Linked DNA regions of Homo sapiens. The protein of the gene in region 1 interacts with the protein of each later gene in a pairwise test. Each region holds a gene or a part of one and is shown on either strand. Other genes may lie near its edges. The genes, in order: BRME1, NDUFS1 and NUP58.

Region 1 (3,751 bases):
CTACAGGCATGTGCCACAACACCTGGCTAATTTTTGTATTTTTAGTAGAGACGGGGTTTCACCATGTTGGTCAGGCTGGTCTTGAACTCCTGACCTTGTGATCTGCCCGCCTCGGCCTCCCAAAGTGCTGAGATTACAGGTGTGAGCCACCGCACCCGGCCAATCCTTGCTTCCTTTTAAGGAGGTTAAGGCAGTCGTGTTAGCCAGATCTGCAATAAACAAGCCCACATTCTTCCCACAAGCAGAAGCAGAAATCAACAAGTGTCCATTTGAATGAACGTACCTGAGGTCCGCAGCTTCTTCCTCTTAGTCATTTTATCTTCCCCTTGAGAAATCTGAAAACAAGCAAAATCTCTCATCATTATAAGCAGTCTCTGTCTCTGTTTATATCCAGTGGCTTTGGCTGAGAGCAGAGGTTACCCCTACCTCCACCTCAGCCCATTTGGCTGCCCCAGGGGTCAGATGGCTCCCACTGGGACACAGGATGGGACACAGAGTCACAGCCACTTTGGGCCATGGCCAGGTAGGAATTCAAACCTCCTCCAAACTGAAGATCTTATGCCCAGGACCTGAAAGACAAATGGGCCCTGGGGGGTCCTTATAGATAGCCCCGGGGACCCAGACTCTGGTCCCTAGGATGAAACAGCCTGTGTGAAGCCCCTCCCTCCAGACTGGGGTATCTGGGGGCCCTTCCAAGGACACTTGAGGACTCTCCAGGGGCCTCTGGAGACCAGCCTGGCCAATATGGTGAAACCCCCTCTCTATTAAAAACACAAAAATTAGCCTGGGCATCGTGACGCACACCTGTAATCCCAGCTACTTGGGAGGCTGAGACAGTAGAATTCCTTGAACCCATGAGGCAGAGGTTGCAGTGAGCCGAGATCGCTCTACTGCACTCCAGCCTGGGCGACAGAGCGAGACTCCGTCTCAAAAAAAAAAAAAAAAATTAGTCAGGTGCGGTGGCACACACCCGTAATCCCAGCTACTCAGGAGGCTGTGGTACAAGGCCAGGAGGCAGAGGTTGCAATGAGCCAAGATCGTGCCACTTTAAAGGGGACAGCTGGGTCCTTGGAGGGGAAAGAGCTGCCATAGGCCGGTTTCTCCCAGCCTTGGGGGCGAGGCAAACCAGAACGGACCTGGGCCACAGAAGTCGTTGAGGACCCTCTGTCCTTATCAGAAACGAGCTCTGCCTGGATCAGTTGGGAATAAGTCGCTTGAATTATCCGCGTTACTCTTTTTGGAAAAAATAAATGGCCAAATTGGCCCTCACAGAACGCTGGAGGCCTCGAGTCCGGAGGTGAAAGATGGAAAGGCCTGAGGGTGGGCGCTGTAGACCCCGCTCCCGGTGACAAGCCCCACACTGACACTACGCCGACCACCGAGAAGTGAGGACTCCACAGGCCGAGAGCCCACGTGAAGCCGGAGCCCGTCGGTGACTGACAGACGCTCTGAACCCCACAGATGTCGCCGCCCCTCACACCTGCGCGCGCTCTGCCTCTTTCCCGCGCCCCGCGAGGTCCCGCCCCGCGCATGAGCGACGCAAACACCGCCCTCGCAGCCCGCGACAGTCAGCACCGCCCCAGCCAGGCGCCTGCGCGCCCACGCACTACCTGCCGGGAGTTGTAGTTTCGGCTCGGCAGACCCGGCGAGCCCAGTGGCCGCGCTCCGGTGCGGCGGCGCCCGAGGCCCGAGGCGGAAGTGGGACGGCCAAGCAGGGAAGCGAGGGCTCGGGATCGACGGCCGCGGGGCGCCGACGAGGAGTGCAGGACTCAGGAAGGGCGAGTGCGCGGCGACAGAGCCCGGGGAAGGAGGCAGGGCAAGGCCGGGCTTGGGGGCAGGTGGTCCGGGCATCCAGCCTTGAAGATGCACAAGAGGAAAGGACCCCCGGGACCCCCGGGCAGAGGCGCCGCGGCCGCCCGCCAGGTGAGTTTGCGCCCCACGGCCCGACCTGGGGATCCCTCCCCACCCCCGTCACTCGCTCAGGGAAGGGCCCCACCCCCCAGGGAAGCCCGATCTCCGCCCCACAGGTAAGCCCCGGTCCCCGCCTCCCCCCAGGTGAGGCTCCAACACCACCCAAGTGTGGCCTACTGGCCTTGGCTCCCCAGCTCCTGGGGCCCTGCCCCGGGTTCGGGGCCACCTGTTGCCACAGCTGCTCCAGTCGAGGAGGGGCAGTCCTCGGACTTGACACATCAAACCCTTGCATCAGTCGGGCCATGTCAGACTCTTTTTATTCCATTGTACAGATGAGGACTTTGAGACTCAGAGACGTGAAGACATCTGCCCAAGGTCATAGGGATTAACAGCTTGGCCAGGGCTAAGCACAAATCCAGGGCTGCAGCCATAAGCTTATGGCACTGTGGCTGGACCCCTTCTCACTCTCCCGACTTCTTTGCCCCAGGCACCAGATAGTTTGATTTTTCTCAGTTTTGATGGAAGGAGCCCAGGACATAGCTTGGTGTTCAGATATTAGAGTCTGGCTGACCTGAAGTTCCCTCCTGGCCTCTGTACATCGGACACTTGACTTTACAGCTCTGAGCCTCAGCTTTCTCATCTGTAAAATGGAGATCTCTATAATCCCAGCACTTCAGGAGATGGAGGCGGAGGCAGAGGTGGGAGAGTCATTTGAGGCCAGAGTTTGAGACCAGCCTGGGCAAAAGCAAGACCCCCGTCTCGACAAAAAAAGACTAACTGGGCATGGTGGCATGTGCCTGTAGTACTACTACTTGGGAGGCTAAGAAGGGAGGATTGCTTGAGCCCAGGAGTTCAAGACCGCAGTGAGCTATGATTGCGCTACTTCTGCTCCAGCCTGGGTGACAGAACAAGACTCTTTCTCTAAAATAAAGATAAAAAATTAAAAATGGAAGTCCGGGGTGGTGTCTCACACCTGTAATCCCAGCACTTTGGGAGGCCATGGCGAAACCCCATCTCTACTAAAAATACAAAAATTAGCTGGGCATGGTGGCGGGCACCTGTAATCCCAGCTACTCGGGAGGCTGAGGTGGGAGAATCGCTTGAACCGAGAGGCGGAGGTTGCAGTGAGCTGAGATCGCGCCACTGCATTCCAGACTGGGTGACAGAGCAAGGCTCCTTCTCAAAATAAATAAATAAATTCCTTCTGAAAATAAATAAATAAATAAAAAATTAAAAATGGAGACCTCCAAGAGACCCTACATTACAGGACAGTTGTAGAGAGTCATTGAGATAGTTTATGGAAAGTGCTAGAACATAGCACTCAATAAATGTTACTATTATCATTATTACTAGTTGGTGGAACCATACATAATTGCCAATATTTGGCCATTTTTTACCTACAGGAAAGGCAATTTCATATGGTTAAACACGATGTTATCACATCATGATTGGTCATTAGCCAAGATAGGAAGACGGGTCTGCATGGCAAACCTGCATTGTGGTTAGGGGTTCTTTTTTTGTTTGTTTGTTTTTGAGACAGAGTCTTGCTCTCTCGCCCCAGGCTGGAGTGCAGTGGCGCAATCTCGGCCCACTGCAACCTCCGCTTCCCGGGTTCAAGCGATTCTCCTGCCTCAGCCTCCCGAGTAGCTGGGATTACAGGCATGCGCCACCATGCCTGGTTAATTTTGTATTTTTTAGTAGAGACGGGGTTTCTCCCTGTTGGTCAGGCTGGTCTGTCTCGAACTCCCCATCTCAGGTGACCCGCCTGCCTCGGCCTCCCAAAGTGCTGGGGTTACAGGCGTGAGCCACCGTGCCCGGCCTAATTTTTGTATTTTTAGTA
Region 2 (3,751 bases), on another chromosome or scaffold:
CGGGAGTCTGAGGCAGGAGAATCGTGTGAACCTAGGAGGCGGAGCTTGCAGTGAGCCGAGATCACACCACTGCAATCTAGCCTGGGCGACAGAGCAAGACTCTTGTCTCAAAAAAATAAATAAATAAATAAATATAGGAAAAATGTGTACAATACTATTATTGAAAAAGGTTACAAAACAGCATATGTACTAAAATACATTGAATTGTCCACTTCATGAGTAAATTTTAGGGTACATGAATTATATTTCAATAAAGCTATCAACCCCCAAGTGAATAATCTCACTTTTTTTTTTTTAAAGAGACCAGATCTGACTATGTTGCCCAGGCTGGTCTGAAACTCCTGGATTCAAGCCATCTGCCCCCCTCAGCCTCCCAAAATGCTGGAATTACAGGCATGAGCCACTGCACCAGGCCTAATCTCACCTTCTGTTTCACTAAAAAATATATAGGCCAGGGGTGGTGGCTCACATCTGTAGTCCCAGCACTTTGGGAGGCTGAGGTGGGTGGACTGCTTGAGTCCAGGAGTTTGAGATCTGCCTGGGTAACATGGCGAAACCCCATCTCTACAAAAAATACAAAAATTAGCTGGATGTGGTGGTATGCGCCTATAGTCCTAGCTACCGAGGAGGCTGAGGTGGGAGGATCACTTCAGCTCAGGAGGCAGAGGTTGCAGCAAGCCAAGATTGTGCCACTGCACTTCAGCCTGGGTGACAGAGTAAAATCTCATCTCAAAAATTATACACACACACACACACACACACGTACATGTAAACAGTAATAATTACATATAAATAACAATAGTTAATTAATATAATATATATGTGTATAATGCATATGTATGTCCCTGGAGGAAGAGTGACTAAAATGTTAAAAATAATTATAGTTATTTCTTGATAGTGGGAGGGTAGTGATTTTTCTTTTTTTAAAAAAAAAAAAACTTTTAGGTTCAGGGGTACATGTGAAGGCTTTTTACACCAGTAAACTCATGTCACAGGGATTTGTTGTACAGAATACTTCATCACCGAGGAATTAAGCCCAGTACCCAAGACTTATCTTTTCTGCACCTCTCCCTCCTCCCACTCTCCACTCTCAAGTAGACTACAGTGTCTGTTGTTTCCTTCTTTGTGTTCATAAGTTCGCAGATAAATACCATAGAAGTGATTTTTTGTTGTGCTTTTGAGCATAGGTATTATTTTACAATGAAGGTAATCTTTATTATCTAACTAAAATACTTATTTAAAAAATCTTAGATACAAACTATATAAAAAAATTAAGAGTTCTATGTGCTTTTAGATAGAAAATTAGTCAAAATAATCTATCAACTATTAACTACCTCATAACCTAGATGTTGTATCAACTGTTCTAAGAATCTGCAATAAACAAGTTTCAGTTTGTCTGCATTCCTTAAAAACATTCCTAACAATTTACATCAGAAGCACTGTTTAACATGTTTCACATTTAAATGTTTTGATTCTTCCACCTATAATTCTCAGAAAAACCTGCAGTTATTTGCCACTTTGGAAAATTCACCATAAATTGCTACACAGTGACTTTCCTTACAACAGCAAAATTTTATATTTAAAATCTATTAATTGCTTGGATTTTCAAACTTTGCTTACATTTCAGAAACAAAAAAACTAGAGTAGAATCAGAAAATATGCTTACGTTAGTTCCAATGTTTGAAAACCTTCAAAGATTAAGAATTGCAAACACTATCAATCACAAATTGGAATTATAACACCAAATGAGGTGATCTGATTACTTCTTACCTTTCGTATTTGGCAGAGTCATGTTGACAATTACATACCTGTCATGTAGAAGTCTTTTATAGTTAGCTGAGGTGGAACAAGTGGGTCAGCAAGAAGCTGCTGGTTCACTAGCTGCACAAAAAAGAAGAGATCAACAATAATATGGAAAACTAGTACTGTTACACCAGTAGATACAACATTATGAAAACTGCTCATAGGCGAGCTGTTACCTTTGAGAGCTCATTTGCTTGCTGGAAGTAATTAGCCCCTTCAATATCATCATATCGAACAAGATTAGGAGAGACTTCTTCCAATCTGTTCCTTACTTGATCCAGAGTATCATATGGAAGAGTCATTCCAGCAATCTACAACATGTCAGGTCCCCAAAAACAACAAAAAGCTTTAATACTTAAAAATATCAAATAATAGATAATTGTAACTATGGTGAAATAATGCAGCACTACTGAAAAACCTATTGGTGTCCATTAGTAGACATACATTTATGAAGGAAGCAGTTAAGCAGGGAACACAAATATCAAAAATTCTAATTCATTCACAGCTGTCAGTACATTAGTGACTCTATGAAATGAAGAGACAATACTATGCTAAATCCAAATGTTTTTGCTAACCTGTTATTAAAATACATAAAGTTTACAATGTGTTATTATTTTAAAAGTCAGGATGCTTACTTTTACATCAATAAAGAGCTAACAGATGTATTTTCAGGCAAAAGACAAGTCAACAATTTTCAACAATAAAAGCACCAATTTCAGGCCAGGTGCAGTGGCTCACACCTGTAATCCCAGCACTTCGGGAGACCGAGGTGGGAGGACTGCTTGAGGCCCAGGAGTTCAAGACCAGCCTGGCCAACATGGCGAAACCCCATCTCTACTAAAAATATAAAAATTAGCCAGGCTTGGTGGTACATGCGTGTAATCCCAGTTACTCAGGAAGCTTGCGCCCGGGAGGTGGAGGTTGCAGTAAGCTGAGATCACGCCACTGCACTCCAGCCTGGGCAACAGAGAAAAACTCTGTCTCAAAAATAAATAAAATAAAATAAAAGCACCAATTTCAAGTTCCTTTATTTTTTAAGAGACAGGGTCTTGCTCTGTCCCTCAGGCTGGAGTGCAGCGGTGCAATGAGAGCTCACTGTAACCTTGAATTCCTGTTTCTGAATACATGTTTTCTATAGAAATTATTCAAATCATCTCTGCATTTCAGACTGGCATCTTCCTTGACTTTGAAAATCATTCTAACAGGCTAAAATATCAAATATGCCTTTAGTAGCATCACTAAGAAATGACTCAGAAATTATACCTCAGAGAGTGCTCTTATAATTTTCCAGTCTTCTCTTGCCAAGCCAGGAGGTGTCACTGCTACCTTAGTCTGCTGAGCTCTACCCTCAGTGTTGACATATGTAGCAGACTTCTCTGTGTAAGCAGCTCCTGGGAGAATAACATCAGCTATGGGAGCCCCAACATCACCATGATGTCCTGCACAAAGATGGAAAATGGTAAACCAAAATTTTATTAAAAACTGATTTTCTACTGTACATGAAGATAGTATATATCATTTTAAATCCCATTTTGTAAAGTCACAAAAGTTTTTAAAACTAAAATGAAACAGTAGTGAAGTAATAAAAATTAAAGCCCACCTCAACCCTAATTCAACTCCCTTCCCAAAGAAAATTATTATTATTTTTTTGAGATGGAGTCTCGCTCTGTCGCCCAGGCTGGAGTGCAGTGGTGCAATCTTGGCTCACAGCAAGCTCTGCCTCCTGGGTTCATGCCATTCTTCTGTCTCAGCCTCCCAAGTAGCTGGGACTACAGGTGCCTGCCACCACACTCAGCTAATTTTTTGTATTTTTAGTAGAGACAGGGTTTCACCGTGTTTAGCCAGGATGGTCTTGATCTCCTGACCTTGTGATCCACCCGCCTCAGCCTCCCAAAGTGCTGGGATTACAGGCATGAGCCACCGCGCCCGGCCCCAAAGAAAATTATTG
Region 3 (3,751 bases), on another chromosome or scaffold:
AACCACAATCTCCACTAAGGAAAAACACTACATTATATAATCCAAAAATTTAAATTAATATTTGTATGTTTTCCTTCGTTATATCAGAGTAGATGACAGTCAATGATTGGGCCTATCACTAGCCCTTAATTCCAATTCCTTGCATTTCTTTTCATCTTAGCATTTACCATTTTTTAAGGTCTACTACCAGTGATGATCCTTGTAAAGAGAGATACAGGACACAATTTAGGAAAGAATATCCCAAGCCTACTCTCTGACAATGTGATCAGATCCTCCTCACCTGTATTTGTTCCTCCTAGAGTGAACCCAGTGGCAGGTTTAGATCCAAAGAGCCCGGTTCCAAAACCACTTGAAGGAGCAGATGTAGTTGCTGGAGTTGAAGTACTTCCAAGATTTCCAAAATTGAGCCCCACAGAAGGGTTGCTTATTTAAAGAAACAAAAACAAAACAAAAATCACATGCACAAAAGGAGGTCTACTAGAGCCAATATTTACTTAAGAAAAATAAAAATTAACTCTTCAAGATAATTTCATTCACATAACATATCTAATACATTGTCATAGGACCCAAAAAGAAAAATAAATTTACCTTTAACCCATCAAGTTCAAATATGTTTCTGTTCTTCCTTAAAAATAAATCCACATGTAAAAGTAGTCTTAAAAAAAAATAAATCCACATGTAAAAGTAGTCTTAAAAAATACAATACCAGATTTCAGGCTGGGTGTGGTGGCTCATGCCTGTAATTCCAGCACTTTGGGAGGCCGAGGCAGGTGGATCACAAGGTCAGGAGTTCGAGACCAGCCTGACCAACAGGGTGAAACCTCGTCTCTTCCAAAAATACAAAAATTAGCCAGGTGTGGTGGTGGCACACGCCTGTAATTCCAGCTACTCAGGAGGCTGAGGCAGGAGAATTGCTTGAACCCGGGAGGCAGGTCGCAGTCAGCTGAGATAGTGTCACTGCACTCCAGTTTGAGTGACAGAGCGAGACTCCCTCTCAAAAAAAAAAAAAAAAAAAAATACAATACCAGATTTCAAGAAAAGCAGTCTACAGCAATAAGGATTCCAGATCTCAAGGTAATCATAAGTAGGGATCACAATTATTCTGCTTTCACCAATGTTTGAAACCTAGCATATTTTTAAATGGTCATAGAAAAGTTATTTTAAATTATCTTCACTAGCTTTCCATTGCTACATTACCACATTCATGGGGCAATGTGGTGTTGGGGAGAGTATAGACTTAGGTATTTTACCACCAAAAAAAGCATAGAAAAACTAGTGGGGACATTTCCTGGCAAAAGTTAAACGCAAAGCAAAATCACCCTGTCTCAGGATCATGTATTCATTAACAGAAACTCTTCAGAGCACAGTGCAAAGCTTAAAAAAAGAACAGCTGATAAAAACAAGTGAAAGTGAACAAACTTCACAACTTTTCAACTACTCTTATCAAGACTCAGGGGTTCAGATTTGCTATGAAAAGGTGGGAAGACAAACTGTGAAAATAAGCAAATTTTGACAAGTTGACACTTCCAAAATTATGTAGGAGATTTAAGGGAGACTATACAGCATAATGGCAAATTCTCTTTATCCTACATATTTATCTTTATTATTTCCTTTGCTGCCCTTCCATAAAGAATAATCACCATGGGAGAACCCAATGTCATTTTTAAAGTCTCAAAAGCCCTGGCAGCAGTAGTGTGGCTGGGTTCCAGTACCAATCCCCCCATGTTCTGGTACTTGTGTGCCATTACTTAACCTTTCTGAGCCTCTATTTCCTCATCTGCAAAACAGGAATTAACAGTACCCACTTAGCAGATTTTTTTTTTTTTTTTTTTTTTGAGACGGAGTCTCACTCTGTTGCCCAGGCTGGAGTGCAGTGGCACTCCGCAAGCTCCGGCTCCCGGGTTCACCCCATTCTCCTACCTCAGCCTCCGGAGTAGCTCAGACTATAGGTGCCTGCCACCACACCCAGCTAATTTTTTGTATTTTTACTAGAGACAGGGTTTCACCATGTTAGCCAGGATGGTCTCAATCTCCTGACCTCGTGATCCACCTGCCTCGGCCTCCCAAAGTGCTGGGATTACAGGCGTGAGCCACCGCACCCGGCCAGCAGAATTTTTTTTTAAATATAAGGGTTCAGAGCACAGGATGAATTAACTTCAATAAATGTTGTTATGACTGTTATCATTAGGGATACTTATAAATTTAACTAAACATATTATGTACAAGGCGTTATGCCAGGAATAGCAAGGGAGCAGAAAGATGTCCCCTAGTCAAGGAACATGCCGTTTACCAGGGGGATAAACAACACAAATAACTGTACTCCAAGCCAGAAGAGTTCTCCAAGTTACTTGGGTCCGGGTGTCTTCAATTTCATAATCAGCTTAAGAAGCCACTCAAATTTTTGCAAACACTGGGAGACAAGGAGGAAAAGAAATACTCAAGCAGGAGATAATTCAAGCAGTAGAAATGTACACACCTTCAGTAAGTTTAGAATTACTATAAGTAAGATTATAATCAAGTACCAAACGATGGCAAAGAGATACTGCAGAAGTTTGAGGCAAAGAGCTAATCACTGTGAGGGGAATGGAGGTGGAGGAGCTTATTAAGGGTAGAACTTGAGATGTGCCATCCATACTGAGTAGGTAAAAGGAGAAGTACTGATTTTTAAAATGTGTTTGTGTGCACCTTGGGCATATGAAGGCGAGGCAGGAGACAAAGCAGGGCGGTAAGCTCTCGCTAACAATTAAAACACAGATCTTGACCAGGCCGGGTGGCTCACACCTGTAATCCCAGCACTTTGGGAGGTTGAGGTAGGCAGACTGCTTGAGCCCAGAAGCTTGAGCCCAGCCTGGGCCACATGGTGAAACTCTCTCTACCGAAAAAACAACAACAAAAAACTTCCAAAAAACAAAAATTAGCCAGGCGTGCCAATGCACACCTGAATGTAATCCCAGCTACTCAGGAAGCTGAGGTGGAAAGATCACTTTAGCCCAGGAGGTGGAGGTTGTAGCGGGCTGAGATTGCGCCACTGCATTCCAGCCTGGGAGACAGGGCAAGGCCCTGTCTCAAAAAAAAAAAAAAAAAAAAAAAAAAAAAAACCCCACAGATCTTTAAACATTTAGTCTTAATTTAAAAGGTATTTTTAACAACATATTGCTACAATCAAAACTAAGTGAGATCACACACACAGAAACCTAAGTGAGCGCTACAAGCAAAAGAATATAGTATGTAATGGCTATATCCAGACAACATAGGTAGTACAACCATAAAAGGGGCATATATGCCAAAACATTTAGCTTAGCTGGTAGTAGTCTGATCGTATTGTTATTTTGACACTGTTGTGTGTATAATGTGGAGTAGGGTAAATGAGTATTTGGGGGATACTAAAACATTACTGCCGGCTGGGTGTGGTGGCTCACGCCTGTAATCCCAGCACCTTGGGATGCCAAGGTGGATGGATCACCTGAAGTCAGGAGTTTGAGACCAGCCTGGCCAACATGGTGAAACCCCATCTCTACTAAAAATACCAAAAATAAAAATAAAAAATTTAGCCGGGTGTGGTGGCGTGCCTGTAATCCCAGCTATTTGGGAGGCTGAGGCAGGAGAATTGCTTGAACCCGTAAGGTGGAGGTTGCAATGAGCCAAGATCACGCCATTGCACTCCAGGCTGGGTAACAAGAGTGAGACTGTCTTAAAAAAAAAAAAAAATACATATATATATATATATATATATATATATATATATATATAA

Evidence for each region.
Region 2: the proteins of BRME1 (region 1) and NDUFS1 interact in binary tests that used the Homo sapiens proteins (3 or more experiments, as listed by UniProt).
Region 3: the proteins of BRME1 (region 1) and NUP58 interact in binary tests that used the Homo sapiens proteins (3 or more experiments, as listed by UniProt).

Annotation. Positions count from the first base shown.
Region 1 is NC_000019.10:13,904,579-13,908,329, forward strand, and holds the start of BRME1 (break repair meiotic recombinase recruitment factor 1), read right to left. Parts: upstream 1,540-3,751; 5' UTR 1,533-1,539; coding exon of another isoform or gene 1,137-1,532; intron 336-1,136; coding exon of another isoform or gene 315-335; coding exon 284-314; intron 1-283. Other genes in the region: CC2D1A (coiled-coil and C2 domain-containing protein 1A), read left to right, coding at 1,864-1,923. UniProt on the Homo sapiens protein: Meiotic recombination factor component of recombination bridges involved in meiotic double-strand break repair.
Region 2 is NC_000002.12:206,124,731-206,128,481, forward strand, and holds part of NDUFS1 (NADH-ubiquinone oxidoreductase 75 kDa subunit, mitochondrial isoform 1 precursor), read right to left. Parts: intron 3,243-3,751; coding exon 3,067-3,242; intron 2,115-3,066; coding exon 1,980-2,114; intron 1,882-1,979; coding exon 1,809-1,881; intron 1-1,808.
Region 3 is NC_000013.11:25,304,478-25,308,228, reverse strand, and holds part of NUP58 (nucleoporin p58/p45), read right to left. Parts: intron 626-3,751; exon of another isoform or gene 589-625; intron 424-588; coding exon 281-423; intron 1-280. UniProt on the Homo sapiens protein: Component of the nuclear pore complex, a complex required for the trafficking across the nuclear membrane.